Regions from separate parts of the Homo sapiens genome. Here region 2 is linked to region 1. Evidence: fine-mapped QTL for protein levels in blood plasma. Region 1 holds a variant in brackets. A gene starts in the other region. All regions are shown on one strand. Distances are from middle to middle. Region 1 overlaps MRPL28 (mitochondrial ribosomal protein L28). Region 2 holds the start of PRSS8 (serine protease 8).

The links. A credible set is the group of variants that fine-mapping cannot tell apart. PIP is the posterior inclusion probability: the model's chance that the variant is causal. Protein levels are from antibody-based Olink assays in UK Biobank. Linkage for the fine-mapping came from a reference panel and not from the study's own genotypes, which makes the PIPs less certain.
Region 2: it holds the start of PRSS8, and the variant in region 1 is the best candidate, but not a certain one, in a credible set for the plasma level of the PRSS8 protein (UK Biobank, PIP 0.60).

Annotation. Positions count from the first base shown.
Region 1 is chr16:358,069-369,372 of GRCh38, forward strand. It overlaps MRPL28 (mitochondrial ribosomal protein L28), which reads right to left. Exons shown (of 6, transcript NM_006428.5): 3 at 11,000-11,152; 4 at 10,433-10,567; 5 at 10,260-10,346; 6 at 8,901-9,714. The coding sequence ends at 9,607. Among named protein-coding and RNA genes, the nearest start is that of MRPL28, 6.8 kb to the right of the region's middle. RefSeq lists enhancers at 2,806-3,654, 3,655-4,502, 5,131-5,638, 5,639-6,145, 6,146-6,652. The variant G/A (reference allele first, on the strand shown) is at 7,249.
Region 2 is chr16:31,129,177-31,140,480 of GRCh38, forward strand. PRSS8 (serine protease 8) reads right to left here and starts at 6,551. Exons shown (of 6, transcript NM_002773.5): 1 at 6,238-6,551; 2 at 5,978-5,995; 3 at 4,050-4,212; 4 at 3,506-3,777; 5 at 3,253-3,419; 6 at 2,257-3,159. The coding sequence starts at 6,322. The coding sequence ends at 2,833. It overlaps KAT8 (lysine acetyltransferase 8), which reads left to right. Exons shown (of 11, transcript NM_032188.3): 7 at 841-981; 8 at 1,091-1,184; 9 at 1,280-1,430; 10 at 1,570-1,724; 11 at 2,019-2,183. The coding sequence ends at 2,083. PRSS36 (serine protease 36) reads right to left here. Exons shown (of 15, transcript NM_173502.5): 14 at 11,118-11,239; 15 at 9,750-10,240. The coding sequence ends at 9,962. RefSeq lists enhancers at 1-875, 2,772-3,717, 4,666-5,612, 9,300-9,993, 9,994-10,686 and 2 more.

The sequences.
Region 1 (11,304 bases):
CCTGAGAGACACACCCTGCCAGGGGCTTCCTGGGCCATCCCAGCTGTTGGTGTCACTTTGGGCTGGGGCCTCCCCGGCCTCCACATCTGGCAGCCCCCTTAGCACTGATGTGCCCCTAGATAGGTCCTTCCTCCTCTCCCCCTCACACCTGTCGGGCAGGTGTGTCATCCAACTATGTTGCAACACGCTTCCTATTTGGAGTGGTCCACATAGCTCTGTAGCCAAAGCTGCCTCCGCAGGGCAGATGCCCCAGGAGTGATCCTGGTCCCCACAAAAGGCAGAGGCCTGGGGGAAGGGGAGCAGGGCCCTACCTCATATGCCCTGGCTCCAATATCAGGTCAGTGTGACTGTCACCATGGCCATGGATGACCTGACGGCCTCTGCCCCCGGGACCCACCATTGGCTGGGCACCTGTGGTCAGGAGGACCCACCCACAGAGAGGTGGAGGGTGAACCACTCAGCCGCTGCGGGGCAGGGGCCCAAAGAAACGGGTGCTGTGTGTGGCCAGGCTCGGTGGCTCACACCTGTAATCCCAGCACTTTGGGAGGCTGAGGCGGGTGGATCACCTGAGGTCAAGAGTTCGAGACCAGCCTGGCCAACATGGTGAAACCCCGTCTCTACTAAAAATACAAAAATTAGGCCAGGCACAGTGGTTCACGCCTGTAATTTTAGCACTTTGGGAGGCCAAGGTGGGCGTATCACCTCAGGTCAGGAGCTCGAGACCAGCCTGGCCAACGTGGTGAAACCCCATCTCTACTAAAAATGCAAAAAATTAGCCAGGTATGGTGGCAGGCCCCTGTAATCTCGGCTACTGGGGAGGTTGGGGCAGGAGAATCACTTGAACCCAGGAGACAGAGGTTGCAGTGAGCCAAGATTGTGCCAAGGCACTCCAGCCTGGGCAACAGAGTGAGACTCCATCTCAAAAAAAAAAAAAAAAAAGAAAAAGAAATGAAACGGCTGCTGTGGCCACAGTGCTTGGTCCCCGCTGGCTCCGGGTCCATACTTGTCCCCTGGGGCAGGCCCCAGACCTGCCGTCACCCACGTCGCCTGCGCCCAGCCCCGTCCAGCAGACCTGACAGTCCCCACATCCCCGCTGGCCTCCAGGGGTCAAGGGTCAGGACGCCAAGGCCAACAGGAAAGCACTGGCAACAGGGCGGGGGCCTGGCCAGCCAGGCGGCCCAGAGGCGGTCCCCTCCATCCCAGGGTACTGTCCACACCTCCCAGTGTCCTGAGGGGAGTCCTCCTGCACTGCCTTTCTGAAGAGTTCTGACCCCAGGGTGTCCAGGGGCTGGGACTGGGGCCAGGTGGATACCAGGATGTGGTCAAGTAGGCCTGCCTGGAGGGTCCGGCCGCAGGGGCTGGGGAAGTAGGAGGGGAGGGCGGCCACCACTTCCCAACTCGGGAGCTGCTGACATCAGGGGACTGTTGGGCCTGGCCTGGCACCTGCCTCCCAGGAGACCTGAGTGCCCATCCTTGTCTTGGGCCAGCCTGTAGCCCTAGGCAAAGCAGGCACCTCCTTGTGCCAGTGTCCCCCTGGGCAAAGTGATCGTCCTGACCTGGCCTCACAGCCCCAGAGGTCCGTGTGTGACCCTCTCTGACAGGCCGGGTGGCGGGATGGAGCCCACGGCTGGCCATGGACCAGGTCTGGTGTCCCAGGCACATTGTGAGCACAGGGCAGGGCCTGCTGGCCTCCCCCAACCTCAGTGCTGTTTTCCCAAAAAGAGGTGGCATCCAAGTGCAGGGGCCATGCCCCGAGGGGCCTCGCGCTGACTTCGGGAAGTAGCAGGTGACGTCCCACCTCCCTGGGCAGCCTCAGGCCGCTTCCTGTCCTTGTTGGGGGGACTCCTGCCCCTGCCACACCGACCACAGTCCTTGTCCCTGCTGTTCCCTCACCTGAACGCCCTTCCCTGCCCTGACGGCCTCCATCCCACACGCCTCTCCGGGCGCTGCCGCCCCCCCGTTGGTGCTCATCTGTCCTTCTGCCCACTATCCCCAGCGGCCCCGATACCTGCACACCCCAGTGCCCAGCGGTTCCCCCTCGAGCTGGCAAGGGGACATTAAATGGGAGGTGAGGAAGTGCGGCCCCCAGCGGGCAGCTGCCTTTGCCCCGGCCCACCTGCGCCCCCGCCCACCTGTGCCCTCCGCCGCCTCCCTCTGCTTGGCTGTCCCAAGATGTCTCTCTCCACTGCCTAGGAACCCTGAGGCCGCGGCCAAGTTCTGAGCGTGTGACTGTGTGTGCTGGGCCCCAGGCCCCTTTGTCGCCGCGGCGTCTGTCGTGGCAAACAAAAGTGAACCGGATTAGCCACAGTGGATTAAAAGATTTACGTCTCAGAGTTTACCTAATAACCTAACAATCGTGTCAACGGGAGCTTTGAACCCCCAGGGCGCGCCTGCCAGGCCAACTGAGAGCTCAAGGCCTCTGTGGGCAGCAGGACGTGGTCGGGGGGAGGAGACGCAGCCACGGCTGTCCTCACACCCAGCTCGGCCCCTGCGGGCTCCTCTGGGCAGAACCTGGGGAAGGCACGGCCTCTAGCAGGAGGTGGAGGCCTTTGAAAGGGTGCAGGTGTTGGGACCAGGTACCCGGCCCAGGCCCCCAGCCGCGTCCACACACGTCGCACACGGCAGCAAGGACGCAAGCAGTGTGGAGGTGGCCGCGTCGGCGACGTATGGGCCCCGTGGTGCTGCGGTGCACGACCTCTGTGCTGTCACCCCACAGTGTCCGCTCCTGCACGTACACGCGTGCACGCGCACACACGTGCACACGCACACACACACAAGCACGCCCCGCTTTGATCTCTAAAGGAGAGTCCATTGACAAGCTCTTAATCGCAGCTGCCCTTGCAGGGCCTGTCCCTGAAGTCCCGAGTAATGGGATTTGGCGCTTCTGATCCATCGGGCTGGCCGCTTCCCGTGTCATAGGTGGACATTTTTTTTCTTTATATCGCTTCTGTTTCTTTTTTTTTTTTCTCCTCGAAAAAATGCTGCTTAAACGGCACCGACTTGACATGGCTTGTCTCCTAACCTTGGAGTGGCGGCCGGGACGCCGGCCTGGATCAGTCGGGGGTCTTTGATGCCGCCTCCATGTGAAACCTGACGTGGAAGACCCACCGGGGCGGTTTTGGGGTCCGAGGTCCGTCAGGATTCATCCTGCCTCACCCTGCTCCCTTTGTCTCTTCCCCTGACCCTTCCTCGGGACACCCGGAGAGGGTCTGAGGGTGAGGGTGCGGGCGCTGCGTGTGGGCTTGCACTCGAGGGTGGGGTGGGCCGAGGGCAGGGCCGCAGCCGCGAGAACAATGGGCAGAGGAGGCGCGTCCACCTGTCCGCCCGGCCGCCTGCCCGGCTTACCTCACCTGCCTGGCTCCGTGTGCCTGCTCACGCCCCACCGTCCCGCTGTCCGCCATGATGGGCTTGGCCGTCCGTCCGAGCACTTTCAGCCACTCTGGGAAGCAGGTCCCTGCTCTTGGCCACTGTGTGGCTGGGAGGCAGAAGCGTGACTCTGGGCTGCAGCTCGGGCTCCTGCCGCCGATTGGCTGAGGCAGGGACCAGATGACGGGCCTCAGAACCCTATGGTAGCCATGGCAACCAGCCCCTTTAGACACCGCCACCCCCGAGCCACTCCTGACTGCTGAGGGAGCAGGCGGCACTGCCCGTGGGCCCATGCCAGGGTCCCCTTGGAGGAACGAGGTGGGCATGGCTGCATGGTAGCTGTCCCCACAACAGCTGTTAAGCGTTTCCGTGTGTTTCATTCATGTCCAGTGTGTGGGGTCCTTGCCCCTCTCCTGGCCTGTCCGGGGCCACTCTGTGCCCTGCCTTACCCCCAGCAGAGGCAGAAGCACTGGCCTTGCAGCCCCTGCTGAGAGGAGGACTTCAGGTCAGGCTTGCCTCAGGGGCTGAAGGCCAGGCCCAGTCTGGTGGGAAAATAAAGGGTGGGAGCAGTGGAAGCGGGAGCAGGGAGAACTTCCCAGCCCCACTGGGCAGAGCCAAGCTCTCGCCCACCTCAGACGGCAAAGGCTGCCAGCTTTCTCTCCGCCCACAGTCCACTCCGCCACCCTCTCGTTAGCTGCGGCCTGTGGAATACGTGCACGTGCTCACACAGTCCCGTCTCACAAGCCCCCTGAGGCCCCTCCCGAGGCCTTGCTCCCTGGACCTTGGGTTCCCACTGGGCAGGACTCTGGGTCTTTGGCCACACTGAGGAGACCGTCTCGCCATCAGTCACACACCTGCGGCTGCACCCGCTCTCCCCTGGGCTGCAGTGCCCTCTTGCGTCCCAAGAACGCCTCTTCCCTCCAGGGCGCACCAGCATTGGCCCCTGGCAAAGCTTTCCCGTATGTCTGGAGACGAGGCTTCTCAACCGTCACCCGTGGACATCCTGGGCACTGCAGGGCACTGAGCATCCCCGGAACCACCCCCTGCCCCCAGCCCCGTGACAGCCAGAAACAGTGTTGGCTTGTCCACGCGCTCTGACAGCAGCACTGCCTGGCCAAGACCCCTTCGAAGGCTTCCCCTAAGCCCGGGAAGCTGAGTCCCACTTCCTGGCCCAGGCCCAGCACCCGATGAGCAGAATCTGGTGATGAACAGCTGCAGGACTGCAAGGAGCAAGCGAGAGCCTTGGGCTGCTGCAGCCCAGGGAGGCCACTACCAAGGCCATCAGAGGGACCCGGGATCCAGGGGAGCCTGGAGCATGGTCCATGGGGATCCACCTTCAAGAGAGCGACTTCGGGGCCAGTCCCAGGGAACCGGGCTTGGCATGGGCCTGGGCGCCGGGGGTCTCGGGCCGCGGCTGCTCCCCCAGGACTCTGGGCGCCGGGGGTCTCGGGCCGCGGCTGCTCCCCCAGGACTCTGGGCGCCGGGGGTCTCGGGCCGCGGCTGCTCCCCCAGGACTCTGGGCGCCGGGGGTCTCGGGCCGCGGCTGCTCCCCCAGGACTCTGGGTCCGGATCCAAGCTTCTTCGCACTGGCCTGGTTGTGAGCCGCCTGTCCCAGGATGGAACCCGGCCTTGAAGCCCTTCCCATGCCATGCTCAGAGCTACCAGCTTGTCTGGGGACAGGATGTGGGTAGGGACACCATCCCAGGACAGCAGGCAGTGGTTAGGGAGGATGGTCCAAGGCTGGAGCCCGCCTAGGGAGGGCTGCGGGGCGCTGCGGCAGAGGGAGCCAGGACCGCACGGGAGCCCAGGCTGCTGGGTGTGGCCATGTGGCCAGGGTTCCAGCTTGGGTGGCTGGTGGGTGTCAGAGGGACAGGGACTCAAGGGAGCCTGGGAGCCCCACACAATCCAGCCCGTGCCTGGGGCCAGCAGAGGGCTGGAGTTACAGACGGGCACTGGTGAGAGGGCGAGGGCGGCCAAGGACTGAAGGTGGAGGCGGAGCCCTAAGCAGGCCCGCGGGACACACAGTGGTCTCCCGGCAGCTCCCTTGGGCTCCCAGCACCCTGACGGGGGCACAGGACAGGAGCAGAGTTGCCAAGCGACCCAGAGGGCCCGCCCGCTCTCCATGCCCTTCCCTCCACTATCCTGCTGCTCTGTGCACCTGAGCAGGACTCAGGAAGCAGGCGAGACCCTTGGGGTCAGGGGTCAGACATGGACTTGTGACTGGGTGCCTCAGGCCAGCCTCACATCCACTCCACCCTACCCTTCCTGGCCTTGGCTTCCCCGTCTCTATGTGGAGTGATGGGGTCACTGACACCCCTTCCAGTCCTCCAGTTTTCTACCCCCAAGGGATCCCTGCCCATAGCCGTGAGGGTCCACCCCGGAGTCCACCCTCAGGTCCACAGCCCATTCTCTGCCCGACACCGCGGCTGACTGTTGTCATGGAAACACATGGCCTCTGCCAAGCCTGGGACACGCGTGGGGAACTCCTGGCCCCTGAGGGCTCCGAGAGGCTGGGGCTGGTGCAGGCCGGCCCAGGGCAGCTCTGCCTCCTGTGGGGTTGATCTTGCTCTGCACAGATCCCTCTCCCACTCCAGGTGCCTGAGGGTCTGCACGCCTCAGTGAGGGAGAACTGGCCGTTCTCAGAGACGGAGTCCAACACTTCAGGAAGGAGCCTGACAGGTGTGATTGGTGAGGATGGCAGAAGGAGGGTCTGGTGGCCCCAGCCCGGCCTGGCTCTGGAAGGGGTGGGGTGGGCATAGGGAGGGCAGGGAAGGGGTGGGGTGGGCGCGGGGAGGGCGGGGTGGGCGTGGGGAGGGCGGGGAGGGCGGGGAGGGGTGGCCAGCAGCCATTCCCAGGTTGGCTGCCCGGGCTCCCAGCTCAGTTCTCAGTTCCCCACACACATGTTGGAGCCGGTACAGTCCCTGGGACCCCTCCCCACAACCCAGAAGGCAGAATAGCATGCTGGATCCAGCTGCTGGGTCTGTCCCAGACCTGAGTCACGGTTTGGTCTTGAGGGATGGGTCCGGCATTTACGGAAGGCCTCTTACCTTTTTCTCAGTCAAGGACTTTTGTGGCCTCTGACCAGAAAGTTGTCAGGGCCCTGGCCACACCCAGACCCCACCTCAGTCTGGCCTGGCCTCCCCTGCGGGAGGACTAAACAGCCATGGGTTCCATCGAGGTGACTGGCAGAGGAGGTAACCTGCTGAGGCCAAATGCAGCTTCTCCCACTGGCCAGCTGGTAGCCTGGTCCCAAACCCACAACCCTGAGTCAACACAAGTCAGGACACACTGATAAGCACGTGCCACCATGGCCGACAGGGGGACCGAGGCCAGCGCCTACCAGCCCATTGCCAAGCCTGGCCCCTAACTTCTTGGGGCCCCCAGAGTCTGACCCAGGAAGCCCTACAGGCCTTGGCAGGAGCCCTGCTTACCGTGGGGCTTGGTTGGGGTGGGAAAGAGCAGGTGGTGAGTGAGGGGCAGCCACCGAGGCCTGAGTTGGGAGGTGCTGGACACACACACCATCAGGGAGTCAGGGGCAGGCCGAGGGGCTGGAGGGGGCTTGGCTTAAGTTCACAGCTGAACACGGGAACTGTGCAGGGCAGGGCGTGGCCACAACATCCCAACTCTGGCTAGAGCTGGGGCACGGAACAGCACTCATGCTGTGGGCAGCTGGGCTGAGCCTCATGGCCCCACAGAGCTGACTGAGCACTGTCTGTTTTTCATAAAGTGTTTTTTTTTTGAGACAGAGTTTTGCTCTTGTTGCCCAGGTGGAGTGCAATGGTGCAATCGTGGCTCACTGCAACCTCCACCTCCCGGGTTCAAGCAATTCGCCTGCTTCAGCCTCCCAAGTAGCTGGGATTACAGGTGTGCGCCACCACACCC[G/A]GCTAAATTTTTGTATTTAGTAGAGATGGGGGTTTCACTATGTTGTCCAGACTAGTCTTGAACTGCTAACCTCAGGTGATCTGCCTGCCTCAGCCTCCCAAAGTGCTGGGATTATAGGTGTAAGCCACAGTGCCCGGTATGATTTTTATTTATTTTTTTGAGACGGTGTCTCGCTCTGTCGCCCAGGCTAGAGTGCAGTGGTGCGATCTCCACTCACTGTAACCTCCACCTCCCGGGTTCATGCCATTCTCCTGCCTCAGCCTCCCGAGTAGCTGGGACTACAGGCACCTGCCACCATGCCCAGCTAACTTTTTTGTATTTTTAGTAGAGATGGGGTTTCACCGTGTTAGGTCTCGATTTCCTGACCTCGTGATCCGCCCGCCTCGGCCTCCCAAAATGCTGGGATTACAGGCGTGAGCCACTGCGCCCGGCCTTTTTTTTTTTCTTTTTGAGACAGAGTCTCGCTCTGTCACCCAAGCTGGAGTACAGTGGTGCAATCTCAGCTCACTGCAAGCTCTGCCTTCCAGGTTCAAGCGATTCTCCTCCCTCAGCCTCCCGTGTAGCTGAGATCACAGGCATGTGTCAACATGCCTAGCTAATTTTTTGTATTTTTAGTAGAGATGGGGTTTCACCGTGTTGGCCAGGATGGTCTCTATCTCCTGACCTCGTGATCCACCCGCCTCGGCCTCCCAAAGTGCTCGGATTACAGGTGTGAGCCACCGTGCCTGGCCTAAAATTTTTTTCAAGGTCGTTCACAGAGCAGGGGCATCACATGAAGGCACTGGTGTGGGGAGCAGCAGGACATGTCGGCAGAGGTGCCCGGTGTGGAAAGAGACCTCGGGGGCCCTCCCAGGGCTCTGAACCAGGCAGGTCCTGACCCCAGGGACCCCTTGCGGCCCCGGGAGCCACGTGCTCCCCTGCAGTCCAGCAGGGCCAACTGCAGACTCCCTCTGGACTCTGCCACAGCCCCCTTGGGAGCCAGGGGCCCCTCAATCAGCCAGCAGGCCCACGTCAGGCAGCTGCCTCCAGTTCACCCCATCCTGCCACCAGCTGGGGCTGGCTTAGGCTCAGGGGACATAAACCCCCCCTTGTCATTCTGCACATGCAGCTGGGGGAGCCCTCCCTCTGTGCTCCCTGGGAAAACCGAATGGGTCCGGAGGATCAGGATTTCCAGGTAAGGGTTGGGGGAGAGGGTCAGGTACCCCCAAAACCTCAGGGCGGGAAATGCCTTAGGGTGCACAGCCCGGCTTCCCGCTGGCCAAACCTCCACCCTGCAGGTCAGGTGGAGGTAGCAGGAGGGGACACCAAGGTCGCAGGTCCCCAAGTTCGTGTCGCCCCCACCTCCTCTACCACTCGCCACAACAGTGCTGACCAGGGAGAGGCTCCTGACTCAGGCAGCTGCACCAGCACGGCCCTCTGAGGGCCTGCCCCTCCTGGTTCCTTCCAGTACCTGCAGAGCCAGACCACAGCCTCCCTTGCCCTGCTCTGAAGAATGTTCGAGAAGGGCAGGAATGTGCAATGGAGAGGGAATGGGCATCATCCGGCTGCACCCCTGGATGCCCCCAGCTACACCAGACCCTCTACCAGAGGAAAGAAAGACACAGAATACGGCCAGGGGAGGTGGCTCACGCCTGTAATCCCAACACTTTGGCAGGTTGAGGCAGGTGGGTCACCTGAGGTCAGGAGTTCAAGCCCAGCCTGGCCAACATGGTGAAACCCCTTCTCTACTAAAATACAATTAGCCATACATGATAGCGGGGTGCCTGTAATCCCAGCTACTCAGGAGGCTGAGACAGGACAATCACTTGAACTCTGGAGGTGGAGGTTGTAGTGAGTCCAGATCGTGCCACTGCACTCCAGCCTGGGTGACTGAGCAAGACTCCGTCTCAAAAAAAGAAAAGAAAAAAAAACACAAAACACAGAATTGAACCTCGCTCTCTGCAGCTCACCGGGGGACGGGCACAGCCAGAGTCAATGCCCACGGCTCATCCGAGGTCTCAGGGGCAGCAAGGGCAGGGGTGACAGGATCAGGATCCCCAAAGAGAACACCAGTCCTCAAAGCAAAGATACACACACACAGCCTGGCCCAGACTTTACTCGCTCCCGGCCCCACGGGCACAAGGAACACTGCCGCAAACGTCGGGGCCCAGCCTGAGAGGAGCCTCTGGGCGGCCCAGGCCTCCTGGGGATCCCTGCCAAGCTGGCCCCGGGCTGGAAGGTGCATGGGCAGCACACGAAACCAGGATCCACCCACTGCCCACCGGTGGCCCTCACAGCTCCCCGGGATCTGTGTCCTCAGTGCAAAGGGCCTGGCAGGGAAAGCTGGGCCTGTTGGTCAGGCATGGAGGAGCTGTGTGGTCACTGGCCACTGGCTCTCTTCTGCACCACCGCCGGCTCTGACAGTGCCTGCTGCTGCAGCTGCTGGATCAGCTCCGCCACATAGATCTTGAACAGGGGTACAGGGTCCTGAAGGAGAGAGGGGCTCATGGTGAGGCCAGGGAAGCCCAGGGCAGCTGGAGTTCCGACGGGGATGGGATCAGCAGCTGCCGCCCAGAGGAACCGGGGCATGAGAGGCCCTGGAGGGCAGAGTCCTGTCGGTGAGATGAGGAACCCCCTCCCTTGGGGATGCCGGAGGCACACACATACCCCTGTCCCATCCCTGTGGTCATGGATAAACAGAGGGAATAGGGGCAGCCAGCTGCCATGCCATCAGGGGCTCCCTGTCCTGACAGCTACCTCAGGCTCCAGACCCTGGGATGCTGGTGGCCGAGCAAACCCTCAGTGCAGGAACCCACTCCTCCTACTGAGGGTCCTGGGACAGAACAGGGTGGGGACTTGGAGGGGAGGGAGCGGGCCATGCTCCTCTGGGTGGGCAATGCAGAGCAGCAGCTCTTCCCCAAGCCCACCCAGTGCACCAGCCCCTTGTGCAGGCTCTCTCCAAGGCAGCACACTCCCAGACCCTGAACACCAGGCTCTGGGCAGGCAGCATCGGCTGGTGCTCACACACTCACCTTCTCCTCCAAAAGTCTCTGCTTCTCAATGGCCTCCTCCAGCGTGAGGCCCACCCACTCTGCCTCCTCCTCTGGGATGGCAAATTCCTAGGCAGGCAGAGATGGAAAGGGCAGTGAGGCCCAGGGCCGGGCCACGAGTCCCCAGGTGTAGGGAGCGGGACGGAAACCCTCACCTTGTACTTGTCGTAGATGGCTGCCCGCCGCTCGGGGTCCTCGGGGTGCAGCTGGGGGTCCTGCCGGGCAAGCCGCAGCAGCATCCCTCGCTTCAGGTCCATCCCAAACTTGGAGCACAGGTCCTCCTTCGGGGTCTGGCAGAAGGCTCACATGGGGCCAGGTGCTGGTGGCAGGGCCCCACCTACCCTTCCAGCCAACCCACCTGGCTCCTCTCTAGCCGCTGGTGGTCCCAGGACAGGACAGAGAAGGCCCGGGTGGGGCCGCCTCAGCACCCCAGCCTGGGGGGTGGGATCAGCACAGAAGCAAGTCCAAGTGCAGGGAAAGGGGCGGCTGTGCTCGCTCAGGCCCCACGGGCAAGTCAGCCACCCACAGAGCGACAGCCTCTCCTGAAGGCAGGAAACCCCACTGGTGCTGGCCAGAAAGGGGCATGGCCCCACTCACGCTTTCCCAGTGACCCTCCTGTGCAGATGTCAGCGTGCCCCGGTGTGATGCTGACCTGGGGCTCCCGTGAGTCTGACTGGCCCATCCCAGACCCTGTGTGCACTGACTCGCCCCACCCCGCTTGCCTTGAGGATGTAAAAGTCGAGCCCATAAGCCTCATCGATGAGGTCCAGGGTCCGCATGGTCACAGTCACTGTGAACTTCTTGTCCAGGATCTCACTGTAGAACTCTCGCTCAAACAGCTGTGGCTTCCACACTTTCTTCAGCCTCTTGGAGAGCTGAGGGTGCAACAGAGCCTCCATGAGTACTGCTGCTTTCTCTTACATACCAAGGGGGGCCCAGGCAACTGCCCTCACCTCCCCCCCGGAGGCTCCATCACAGAACCACTGCTGTCAGACTGGGGACCTAGAGCTAACTGGGCCGGCCCCCA
Region 2 (11,304 bases), 31 Mb after region 1:
CACTAGTATGTGCTTAATAAACACGGGCCTTGTTATTATCGGTGACCTCTTGGGGCTTGATTAGCCTTGGACTCGGAGAATACGCAGGCTGAGCCCAGCCCTTGCCCCTGCTCTGCCTTCCTGAGCATGGCTGTGTGGAATAGCAGAAGGGCCCCCGCTGGAGATGTGGGGGTGCTTTCCAACTGCGCTCTGCCAGCTTTGAGGCTCTGGGCAAGCACTTCCACTCTGGGAGCTTCAGCTTCCTCCTGAGTAAGATGGGCCTGGCAGTGCTGGGCTCGCACAGCTGCCGGGTTGGATGAGAGAGTGGCTGTGGTGTCATAAACCAGGGAGCCCCTTAGTGTGTGCCGTGAAGCCAAACTCGGTCCCATTGTCCCCCTCCTGGAGTGCAGCCAAGTGGACAGACAGGGCTCGAGGTTCCTCCATTCAGCAGACGTTTACCAGGCACCCAGCTTCATACTTAGACTCGTGCTAGGCGCTGGGGACACAGCCATGAACAGGACGGTCTAAATTCCTGCCTCGGAGCCTCAGTTTCACGAGCTGAAACAGAGTTAATGTCTGTGAAGACTGAAGCAGATCCTGCATGGAAGGCACCCAGCTCGTATTTGGCACTCAGAAGGGGTGGCCGGGCTTCATCCAGCTCCACTGGCACCTCCGAAGTGCTGTTGCTCTCTCATTTCCAGTTCCCTGTTCGTCAGAGGCTGACCGAAGACTCCTTCCAGTGTGAAATCCTTCTGGCCTGGCGAGGCGCCCACTTCGCGTGGGCTGGTGCCGGCCGCTGGAACCAGCTGGGTGGGGCCTGTGCCTGCCCCCTGAGCCTGTCTCCCCCCTCCTCAACCCTAGATTTACTGTCAGAACCTGTGTCTGCTGGCCAAGCTTTTCCTGGACCATAAGACACTGTACTTTGACGTGGAGCCGTTCGTCTTTTACATCCTGACTGAGGTGGACCGGCAGGGGGCCCACATTGTTGGCTACTTCTCCAAGGTGCTGGGTCTGGAAACTCGGGGTGGGGAGGGTGGGGAGGGCGAAGGTGGGCATGAACAGAGAGTGGGGCAGAGCCTCCCCAGCGGCCCTGAGCACCTGCCTCCTGCAGGAGAAGGAGTCCCCGGATGGAAACAATGTGGCCTGCATCCTGACCTTGCCCCCCTACCAACGCCGCGGCTACGGGAAGTTCCTCATCGCTTTCAGTGAGTGGTTCCTGGCCTGTCTGGGAGGGGGAGACCTGTGGGGCAGGGGTGCCAGGGCAGGCTGGATCCTAAGTTCCTCTTTCTACTGCTGCCAGGTTATGAGCTCTCCAAGCTGGAGAGCACAGTCGGCTCCCCGGAGAAGCCACTGTCTGACCTGGGCAAGCTCAGCTACCGCAGCTACTGGTCCTGGGTGCTGCTAGAGATCCTGCGGGACTTCCGGGGCACACTGTCCATCAAGGACCTCAGGTGAGGGGGCCTCCCGGGCCCTGGGGGCAGGACTTGCCCTGAGATGGGCCACGATCCTGCTTCCTCATACCCTGTCACCATCCTGGCCAGATCCCACAAGGGCACCAGGTCTGGCATTTGCTCTCATCCCTTTTTGCAGCCAGATGACCAGTATCACCCAAAATGACATCATCAGTACCCTGCAATCCCTCAATATGGTCAAGTACTGGAAGGGCCAGCACGTGATCTGTGTCACACCCAAGCTGGTGGAGGAGCACCTCAAAAGTGCCCAGTATAAGAAACCACCCATCACAGGTGGGTGGGGGGCTGCTGTGTGTCGGGGGCGGTGGGGGAGTGTCAGTATATGGACTGGTAGGAGTCAAGGCCTCCTTATTGCTGTCACATGATCCCAAACCAGTCAGACCAGCTCCCAGGATGGAGCCCGGGGCAGGCCTCTCATTCCTGGGCTTCCCTACCCCTCCCCAGCACAGCCTGCCCTTTTGTTCTCACCTGGAGGAGGTGAAACTGGCCTGAGCCCAGAGGAGGGCAGCCAGGTGTGAGCTGGCCTGGCCCAGGCCCAGCCCTGCCTCCCGCCCCTTCTCCCCACAGTGGACTCCGTCTGCCTCAAGTGGGCACCCCCCAAGCACAAGCAAGTCAAGCTCTCCAAGAAGTGAGCAGCCTGGCCCCTGCTGTCGGACCTGAGCCTCCTGGCTCCCAGCCTGTAAATATGTATAGACCTGTTTTGTCATTTTTTTAATAAAGTCAGTTCTGGTGGCCCTGGACTTTGGAGGGGAAGGGGAGGCCAAGAGCGGATGTTCTTCATTTCACTTCACACATGCACGGCAAGTTGTGCTCAAACATTTTAATCATTTCTGCCCTGTTACTCCCACCCCAGATCCAAGCGCCAGCCCAGTTCCGGTGGGGGCTCAGTCCTCCGGAGTCCAGGAGTCAGGGCTCGGGGGCGCTCAGCGGCCAGTGGGCAAGATTGGGGCCTTTCCTGTCCTCGAAGCTGCACAAAGGTGGCCCCAGCCCAGAACACAGGGAGAGGGCAGAGAGATGTGCTCATCAGTCTGGGCAGGCGGGCCGGGAGCAGTCTTCCAGAAACAGGTGGGAGCCAGGGCTCATTTTCATAGCCAAGGGTCCCAGGAGCTCCCCAGGAGCTCGGCCAATGGGCTGGTCCATGGTGGGTGAGGGGCCAGAGGCTCTGGCCATTGCTACAGGCAGTAAAACTCCTGACTCTCAGTGATGGTCCCAAAAAGCACACCCAGAAGAATGGGCTCAAAGATCAAGATGGGGCCCCAGCCTCCCGCAGAGTCCTGAAGGAAGGAGTGGCTCAAGTCAGGCCCTGGGTCCAAAGGCCATCAGGGAAGGACCAGGCTCCTGTCCTTGAGTGTGATGCATCCATCCTGGAAGTAGGGCCAGCTCAGTGCTCGCTGAGCCATGGGGAGAGGAGGCCCAGAGCCAGGCCCAGAGGCAGGAAAAGGATGGGCCTCAGCAAGCCCTGGGCTGGGGCAGAGCTGAAGGCCAGGTGGCTGCCACAGAGGTTGCTGTCGGGCTGGGACTCCTGGGTTTGGGGCACCACACGAGGCTGGAGTTCTGTCACCTTGCTTTGGATCCAGGAGGCATAGCTGGAGGCCAGAGTGTACACACCAGGCCTGTTGCGGGCCCCACAGGCATCTCCCCAGCTCACAATGCCCGTCAGGTACCAGAGACCCTCCACAGGGCAGGAGAGTGGGCCCCCAGAGTCACCCTGAGGAGAGAAGCCACACAGCAGCCATCAGGACCGGGCCAGGCCTCCTTTCCGAAGTTGCACTGGTCATCTGCCCCCCGGGCCTGTGCTTACCTGGCAGGCGTCCTTGCCCCCCTCCACATAGCCAGCACACACCATGTCCTCTTGGACAAAGTGCGGCTCCTCAGGCTTGGCGTCGATGTTGTACAGGCAGTTACACGTCTCACGACTGATCAGAGGCACCTCGAGTTGCTGCAGTGGCTTGGGCGTCAGGAGGCTCACTGTGGGGGTAAAAGAGGCTTACCCTGGGCCCCTCCCCAAGTCAGGTGCCCCTCCACACCTCTAGGCACCCAGCGTCCCACCTCACCTGAGGGGGCCACATGACCCCAGCCAGTGACAGTGCAGTGGAGGCCGTTGGGGAAGGAGGCGTTGGCTGCAGGGAGGCAGATGGGCCGGATGTAGCGGGAGAAGGTGATGGGTCTGCTGAGTTGGAGGAGTGCAATGTCGCCCTGGGAGCCCTCCTGGAGGTAGCTGGGGTGGGGGATGATGTCCTTCAGGGTGCTGACCTTGGCGTCCTCGGAGTAGGAGTCTAGCTGGTGGGCCCCCAGCTTGACCTCATAGGCTTCCTTGTGGTGCTCGCTGCAGGCAGGGGGCAAAGGCTGAGACCCAGGAGACCTCTCCTTGTTCCCCAACCCCCACTGCCAACCCCTGATTCCGATCAGCCCCTTTTAGGTCTCAAATTGCACCTTAGTTTTATCATGTAACCTCTGACCCCTCACCTTCACTCCTAACTGGTCCTTCCAGACTTAGAACTGACACTCTCAGACCCAACCCAAGAACCCCAACCTCTGACCTGGATTGACCCATTAACTTTGACCTCCAGCCCACTTTTGACTTTCACCATTTGGTACCTGGGGAAGCAGTGAGCAGCTGACAGCACCCACTGCTCAGACACGAGAGAGCCACCACACACATGGACGCCTTCATAGGTGATGCTGACCTGCCAGGGCCACTGACCGGCGACTGCACTGCTGCCACCTGTGATGCGTGCTTGGGGGGCCACACCGCAGGGAGCTGCCCAGGGAGGAAGGGAAGGGGTCAGGTTGTTAGCCTGGCCACTCCTATGCAGCCCAGGAGCTCTGATATAGAGCTTGGGAAGTGGGTTCACAGGAGTCAACACCCCTTTGTCCCCTCCCAGGCATGGGCAGTTGTGCCCCTTCTGTCCACTACCCATTACCTAATTCAGGTCTCATGGCAGCTTCTCTCCTTGCAAGCCTTCCATCCATCCCGCCCCTTACAAGTCTGAAGATTTTCATAAACCCCCAATCTGACCAGGCCACAGCCCTGCTTAAACCCTTCTTGGCTCCACGCGGTCCTTAAGATACATTCCAGACAGACCATGGCACCGCCATCGGACCCAGCCGTCCCCTCTGGACCCTTCAGTTGTGTACATCAGGCCACACACTTGTTTACCCGGGACCTTGGCTGATCCAGGTCACTCTACCTGGTATGCCCTTCCCCATCCTTACTGTCTGGCAAACTTCCCTTTGCCTGTGGATGCTTGATTGGAACAGCAGCCCCTCCGTAGACAGGCGGGCTTCTGCTGGCTGAGTTGGGCATTGCCTCCGAGCCCAGCACCCCCCAACCTCCACCATGCTCCCCGATGCTGCCCAGTCTCACAATTGTTCCGGAGTCCACAACTGTGTCTGTTTCCACCACACCAATCTGGGCATTCCCTAGGGGCAGATTCTCATGTCTGCAGTGCCTGTGGCGTCGTGGACATATATTCAACAAACCAACAGCAGAACTGGGCTCCTGTGATGTGAATGTCTAGTTTCCAGGACAGCCCCAGCCCCACCCCCATTGAGGCCACTTTGGAGTGGAGCCCAACTGCTCTTCACAAAGTCATCTAGGAGCAGAGAAAATTGCAGACCAGATCTTTCTCTCCCTTATCATCATGACAATAGCCACTATTTAGAGAGCCTAGCGGCTGTGCCAGGCCCTGGAGGGGCTTTCGCTTCCTCATCTCCCTGCATCCTCTCCACAGCCCCAGGAGACGGACATGACCAGCTTCATTTTAGAGGTGAGGAGTCTAAGGCTTAGAGAAGTGGGGGGACTTGGCCAATGACACACAGCCAGTGCATGGGGAAGCCAGGATTGAAAGCCGGTCTGACTCAGAGCTGGGTTGGGTGCCTTCCAAGAAAGGAGACCCTTGGTTTGGTTCCCTCAAAACCACCTCCAGGATGGGAACGGTGGCTCACACCTGTAATCCCAGCACTTTGAGAGGCCAAGGCAGGAGGATCGCTTGAGCCCAGGAGTTCAAGACCTGCCCGGCCAACATAGTGAGACCCACATCTCTACCAAACAAAAACAAAAACAAAAACAAAACACAACTAGCTGGGTGTGATGGCATGCACCTGTAGTCCCAGCCACTAGGGAGGCTGAGGTGGGGAGGTGGGAGGATCACGTGAGCCCGGGAGGCTGGATCACTGAGACTGCAGTGAGCTGCGATCGGGCCACTGCACTCCAGCCTGGGTGACGACAGACCCAGACCCTGTTTCAAAAGACAAAAACCAAACCAAAAAAACCACCTCGATTGCCCCACTTTGGGAGTCAGACGTGGATCTGAATCCCAGCTGCACCTTCACTGGCAGTGTGCCCTGGGCAAGTCCCTGCTTCTCTGCCCATAAGGTGAGGGCTAAAACCCCCCACTCTGGGAGCCCTAAGAGAATCTAGTTGGAAGGCAGCCCAGCTGAAGGCCAGGCACTGGTTAAACCCCAGGGGAATCCGATCCAAGTCACCTCCCCCTCCCCTCCTCCCTCTCCGAGGAAAGTCTCACCTTCTGCCCCTTCCGCTCCTAGAAAGAAAGAGAAAGAGGAGGGGTGAGTAGGGAAGACTCGGGTTCCCTGACCCCTTAGTACCCACCACTGCTCCAGAGGGCTGGCCCCTTCCCTGACAGAGCCAAGGTGGGAAAGAGAGGCCAAGAGCTAGGGAGGCCGGGGGTTTTCTTGGGCCCCAGACAAGGGCACACCCCAGAAAATGATCACGCCGGCTCCCTCCAGTGCATTGTCCCCACCCTGCCCCCACGTCCTCACTTACCTGTCCCCGACCGGAGTAATCCAAGATAGAGCAGAATGGCCACAGCCCCCAGCTGCCCAGGCCCCAGGACCCCCTTCTGGGCCATGGCCCAGGACAAGGGCCCCTGGGGCAGACTCCAGGCACGCAAGGTAGGAAGCCTTGGGGTGGTGTCGAAGGCAGGACCCAGATGTTGGCTCAGAGGGAAGGATCCCAGAATCCGGGCTGGAAAGGGGCAGCAAGTGTCCAAGGCTGGCCTCTAAGGCAGGGAGCGGCCGCAACGGGAGACGCCTGGAGTATCCGAAGCGAGCAGTGTGGACGAGTCACCAGCACCGTCTGGCCACGCAGGGTCCTCCCAGGAGTGGCTGCACCTACCTGCCCGCCCCTCCCCTGGCCCCGCCCACTGGCTGGGCTCCGCCAGCTCCTCTTGCCACCAAAGTCATGAGTCCTTTCAGAGCTGCAGGCCCGTGTGTGTGCATGTATGTGTCCGTGTGTATGTGTGTGCACATGCATAGGCCTTTTGTGTGTGTGTCCCGGTGTGTAGTGTGTATGTGGTGTGTGTGTATGCCTGTGTAGGCTGTGTGTGTCCTCTTATGTGGTGTGGTATGTGTGTGTGTGTGCATGTACAGGCTGTATGTGCACATGTGTAGGCTGTGTGTGTCCCTGTGTGTGTAGTGTGTGTGTCTGAGTGTGCGTGCATGCACGTGCATGTGGTTTGTGTGTGTGTGCAGTCTCCCTGGAATGTGACGACTCTCCTCCGCCTCAGGTCTTTCAGGTTATCTCAGGCCAGTTATGCCCCCCAGGGCCTGGCCCCAGCTTTTATTATCTGGAGCCACAGCCACTCCTCCCTTCTTCCCTCCCTCCTTAGGCTGGTTATGGGAGCTTAAGACACTATGGTCTGTCCCCTGCCAGGCCCTTTCTGCGATGCCTGCACCTCATGGGTGGTGGCGAGCTTGTGGAGCAGCACCAATCATCCCACAGACATTTCCTAAGTGCCTATGATGTTCCCAGGTGTCCAGGACAAAACAGGCACCAGCCCCGTCCCCCTTGAGCCCTGAGCTCATGGTGAAGTAGGGGTGACACACTTCAATCAAATAATCACAAACAGGCTGGCAAGGTGGCTAGTCGGCTTTGGGAGGCTGAGGCTGGAGCATCACTTGAAGCCAGGAGTTCCAGACCAGCCTGGGGAATATAGCGAGGCCTCATCTCTACAAAGAAATATAAAAATTAGGCAGGCATTGTGGCGCATGCCTATGGTTCCAGCTATTTGGGAGGCTGAGGCAGGAGGATTGCTTGAGCCCAGGAGTTCAACGAAGCATTGAGCTATGATCACGCCACTGCACTCCAGCCTGGGCAACAGAGGGAGACCCTGTCTTAAAAAAAAAAATTGCAATTACACAATAATTTCAAGCTAGGAATAGTGATGAAAAAGAATGGCGTGAGCACACCACAGCCTGGCAAAGGCTGGCATTGTGAAAGGGTCCTCGAGGAATTGCCTTGGAAACTGAGACCGAAAGGGATTATAAAAGGTGGTAAGGCGAAGATGGGGGGATGGGGTGCAGAGGGCAGAGGCTCAGGGAAAGAAGGCTTGCCGTGTGGCTGCGGTGGGAGTGAGGCATGTATCCTCCTTGAGGGCCACTCTGGCCGTTCAAAACACCTGTTGAGGCTGGGTGTGGTGGCTCACGCCTCTAATCTCGGCACTTTGGGAGGCCAAGGCACACGAATCACGAGGTCAGGAGTTTGAGACCATCCTGAACAACATGGTGAAACCCCATTTCTACTAAAAATACAAAAATTAGCCAGGCGTGGTAGCACGCACCTGTAATTCCAGCTACTCAGGAGGCTGAGGCAGGAGAATCGCTTGAACCCAGGAGGTGGAGGTTGCAGTGAGCCGAGATATTGCGCCATTGCACTCCAGCCTGAGCGACAGAGCGAGACTCCGTCTCAAAAAACAAACAAACAAAAAAAATTGTGGAGCTTGGATGTGGTGGCTCACACCTATAATCCCAGCACTTTGTGAGGCCAAGGTGGGAGGATCATTCTCAAGATCAGGAGTTTGAGACCAGCTTGGCCAACATGGTAAAACCCCGTCTCTCCTAAAAAATACAAAGAAAATTAGCCAGGCGTGGTGGCGCATACCTGTAATCTTAGCTACTCGGGAGGCTGAGGCAGGAGAATTGCTTGAACCTGGGAAGCCAAGATTGTGCCACTGCACTCCAGCCTGGGCAACAGAGGGAGACTCCATCTCAAAATAAATAAATAAATAAAATAAATAGGCCAGATGCAGTGGCTCACGCCTGTAAATCCCAGCACTTTGGGAGGCTGAGGTGGGCGGATCATCTGAGGTCAGGAGTTCAAGACCAGCCTGGCCAACATAGAGACACCCCACCTCTACTAAAAATACAAAAATTAGTTGGGCATGGTGGTGGGCACCTGTAATCCCAGCTTCTCAGGAGGCTGAGGCAGGAGAATTGCTTGAACCTGGGAGGTGAAGGTTGTAGTGAGCCGAGATTGCGCCATTGAACTCCAGTGTGGGCGACAATAGCAAAACTCTGTCTCAAAAAATTAAAAATAAATAAGTTAAATAAAAATACAAAAATTAGTCCGGCATGGTGTCTTGAGTCTGCAATCCTAGTTACTTGAGTCTGAGGCAGGAGGATCGCTTGAACCCAGGAGGTGGAGGTTGCAGTGAGCCGAGATTGCACCACTGCACTCCAGCCTGAGCATCAGTATGAGACTCTGTCTCAAAAAAAAAAAAGTGGAGATGGGGGTCTTGCTTTGTTGCCCGGGCTGGTCTGGAATGCCTGGCCTCAAGCGATCCTCCCAAAGTGCTGGGATTACAGGCATGAGCTGCCGCACCTCGTCTCTGGTTTTGCGTTACTTTTTAATTGTAGATTCATTGGCTGGAAACCACCTTCCCTTTTTCTGTGCTCAAACATCACTGCTATGACATCTTCCCAATCCCAGCCAGGGATGTCCACATGTGTCCCCACTAGATTGGGAGGACTTTGTGGGCTTATATATCAGACCCCAATTGTGCCACGACTTAGTAGCCACCAGGGAACACGGGTTGAATGAATGCAGGGAGGTGCAGGTAAGCAGTGGGTAAGGGAGTGAGGTTCACATATAAGGGACCCAAGTTCTGGGCAGAATGTGAAAGTGGCAGACCCTTGAAGGGCCCAAGTGTTGTGTGTGTGCAGGGGATACATCGGAGCATTGTGCATTGAGGTGTGTCTATGGCGGGCAGCGAGGGCAGCGGGTCTGAGCAGGGGATGAGATGTCCAGCACGTGCCGAGGGTGCTGACTCCACTGGGCAGGTGACACACAGCCAGCTGGCCACCCGACTTCCCTGCCCTGGGACAGGAATGAAGGAATCGCTGCCAGGTTATCAGGGTACATTTCCTGAGAGCCCAAGGCCTGACTCAGAGGCCGGAGGAGGGAGGAGGGAGGGGACCTCCCCCTTGGGCTTCCCGCTTAGCCTCTGATGCCCAGCCCCTCAGCCTGCCCACGGCGATGCCACAAGGCCACACAGGTACCTGTGTTTACACCTTTATTGTCCGCTCCTCCCACCACCCCCAAGGATTCCTGGGTTCAAAATAGCCCGGGCACTGAGGCCCAATTAGCCAGAGCCGCTGCAATCTCGGTGGGTGGGGCCCTTGAGGTTCCAGCCGGCTGGGCCACATTCCAGCCCCACTGGGCGGGAAGTAGAGGGTGGAGAAGGGGGAAGTGGTGCTGGGACCCTAGCCCCTCAGCTCTGGATCAGGAGAGTCAGCAGGAGCAGGAAGTAGACTGCATGCGGGGATCCCGAGGCCTTGGCCAGTTCTGGGGGGCAGAGATTGCTGCCTCCAGTGGGCCAGTGTGGGGAGCCACTGGGGGGCAGGAAGTTGGCCTCTCCCACTGTCTGGGAGATCCAGGCCTCTTCAGGACCAATGGCAGCAAACAGCTCCCGGCTCCCTTGAACAGCCATGCCCACGAGGATCCAGGACCCTTCCGTCATCTGGCACAGGAGGGGCGGTGCTGAGGTCATCTGCAGAGTTGGAGCGAGGCCACGTGGGTCTGCTGCCCTTCCTCTTGGTCCCCTCCCCCTTTCCCCAGGGTCTGGCCACGAAGCACTCTGGTCTGCATCCCTAGACATCCAGGTCCCTGGTTTCTCTCCCGGGTCCAGCTAGGGTCCCATTTGGGGCCAAATACCCAATAATTCCAATCCTGGCCAGGTGCAGTGGCTCACACCTCTAATCCCAACCCTTTGGGAAGCCAAGGTGGGCGGATCATTTGAGGTGAGGAGTTTGAGTCCAGCTTGGCCAACATGGTGAAACCCTGTCTCTACTAAAAATACAAAAATTAACCAGGTGTGGTGGTGCATGCTTGTAATCCCAGCTACTAGGGAGGCTGAGGCAGGAGAATCTCTTGAACCTGGGAGGTGGAGGTTGCAGTGAGCCAAGATCACACCACTGCACTCCAGCCTGGGTACCAGAGCGAGACTCAGTCTCAAAAAAAAAAAAAAAAAAAAAAAAAAATTCCTTGGCCGGGCGCAGTGGCTCACACCTCTAATCCCAGCACTTTGGGAGGCCGAGGCCGGCGGATCACGAGATCAGATCAAGACCATCCTGGCTCACACAGTGAAACCCCGTCTCTACTAAAAATACAAAAAATTAGCCGGGCGTAGTAGCGGGTGCCTGTAGTCCCAGCTACTCGGGAGGCTGAGGCAGGAGAATGGCATGAACCAGGGAGGTGGAGCTTGCAGTGAGCCGAGATCGCGCCACTGCACTCCAGCTGGGGGACAGAGTGAGACTCTGTCTCAAAAAAAAAAAAAAAAAAAAATTCCAATTCTGCTATCTCTCTAGGGTACAGTAGTCCAACACTGCCTCTCCCCTGCCTACTCCAGGACGCCCAGGCCCCTGTACCTCACACCTGTTCTCCTGCCCCTCTGCATACAGGACACAGAGGGTTCCAGGGGGCAGGATGCCCTGATAGAGGCAGTCACAGATTCGTTGTGTCAAGATGGAGACAGCAGCAGCCACAGGGACTGGGGAGAGGAGACAAAGTTGTTCCAGGGCTCTGGCCTCCAGCTACTCCTCGTTCCCGTGACCC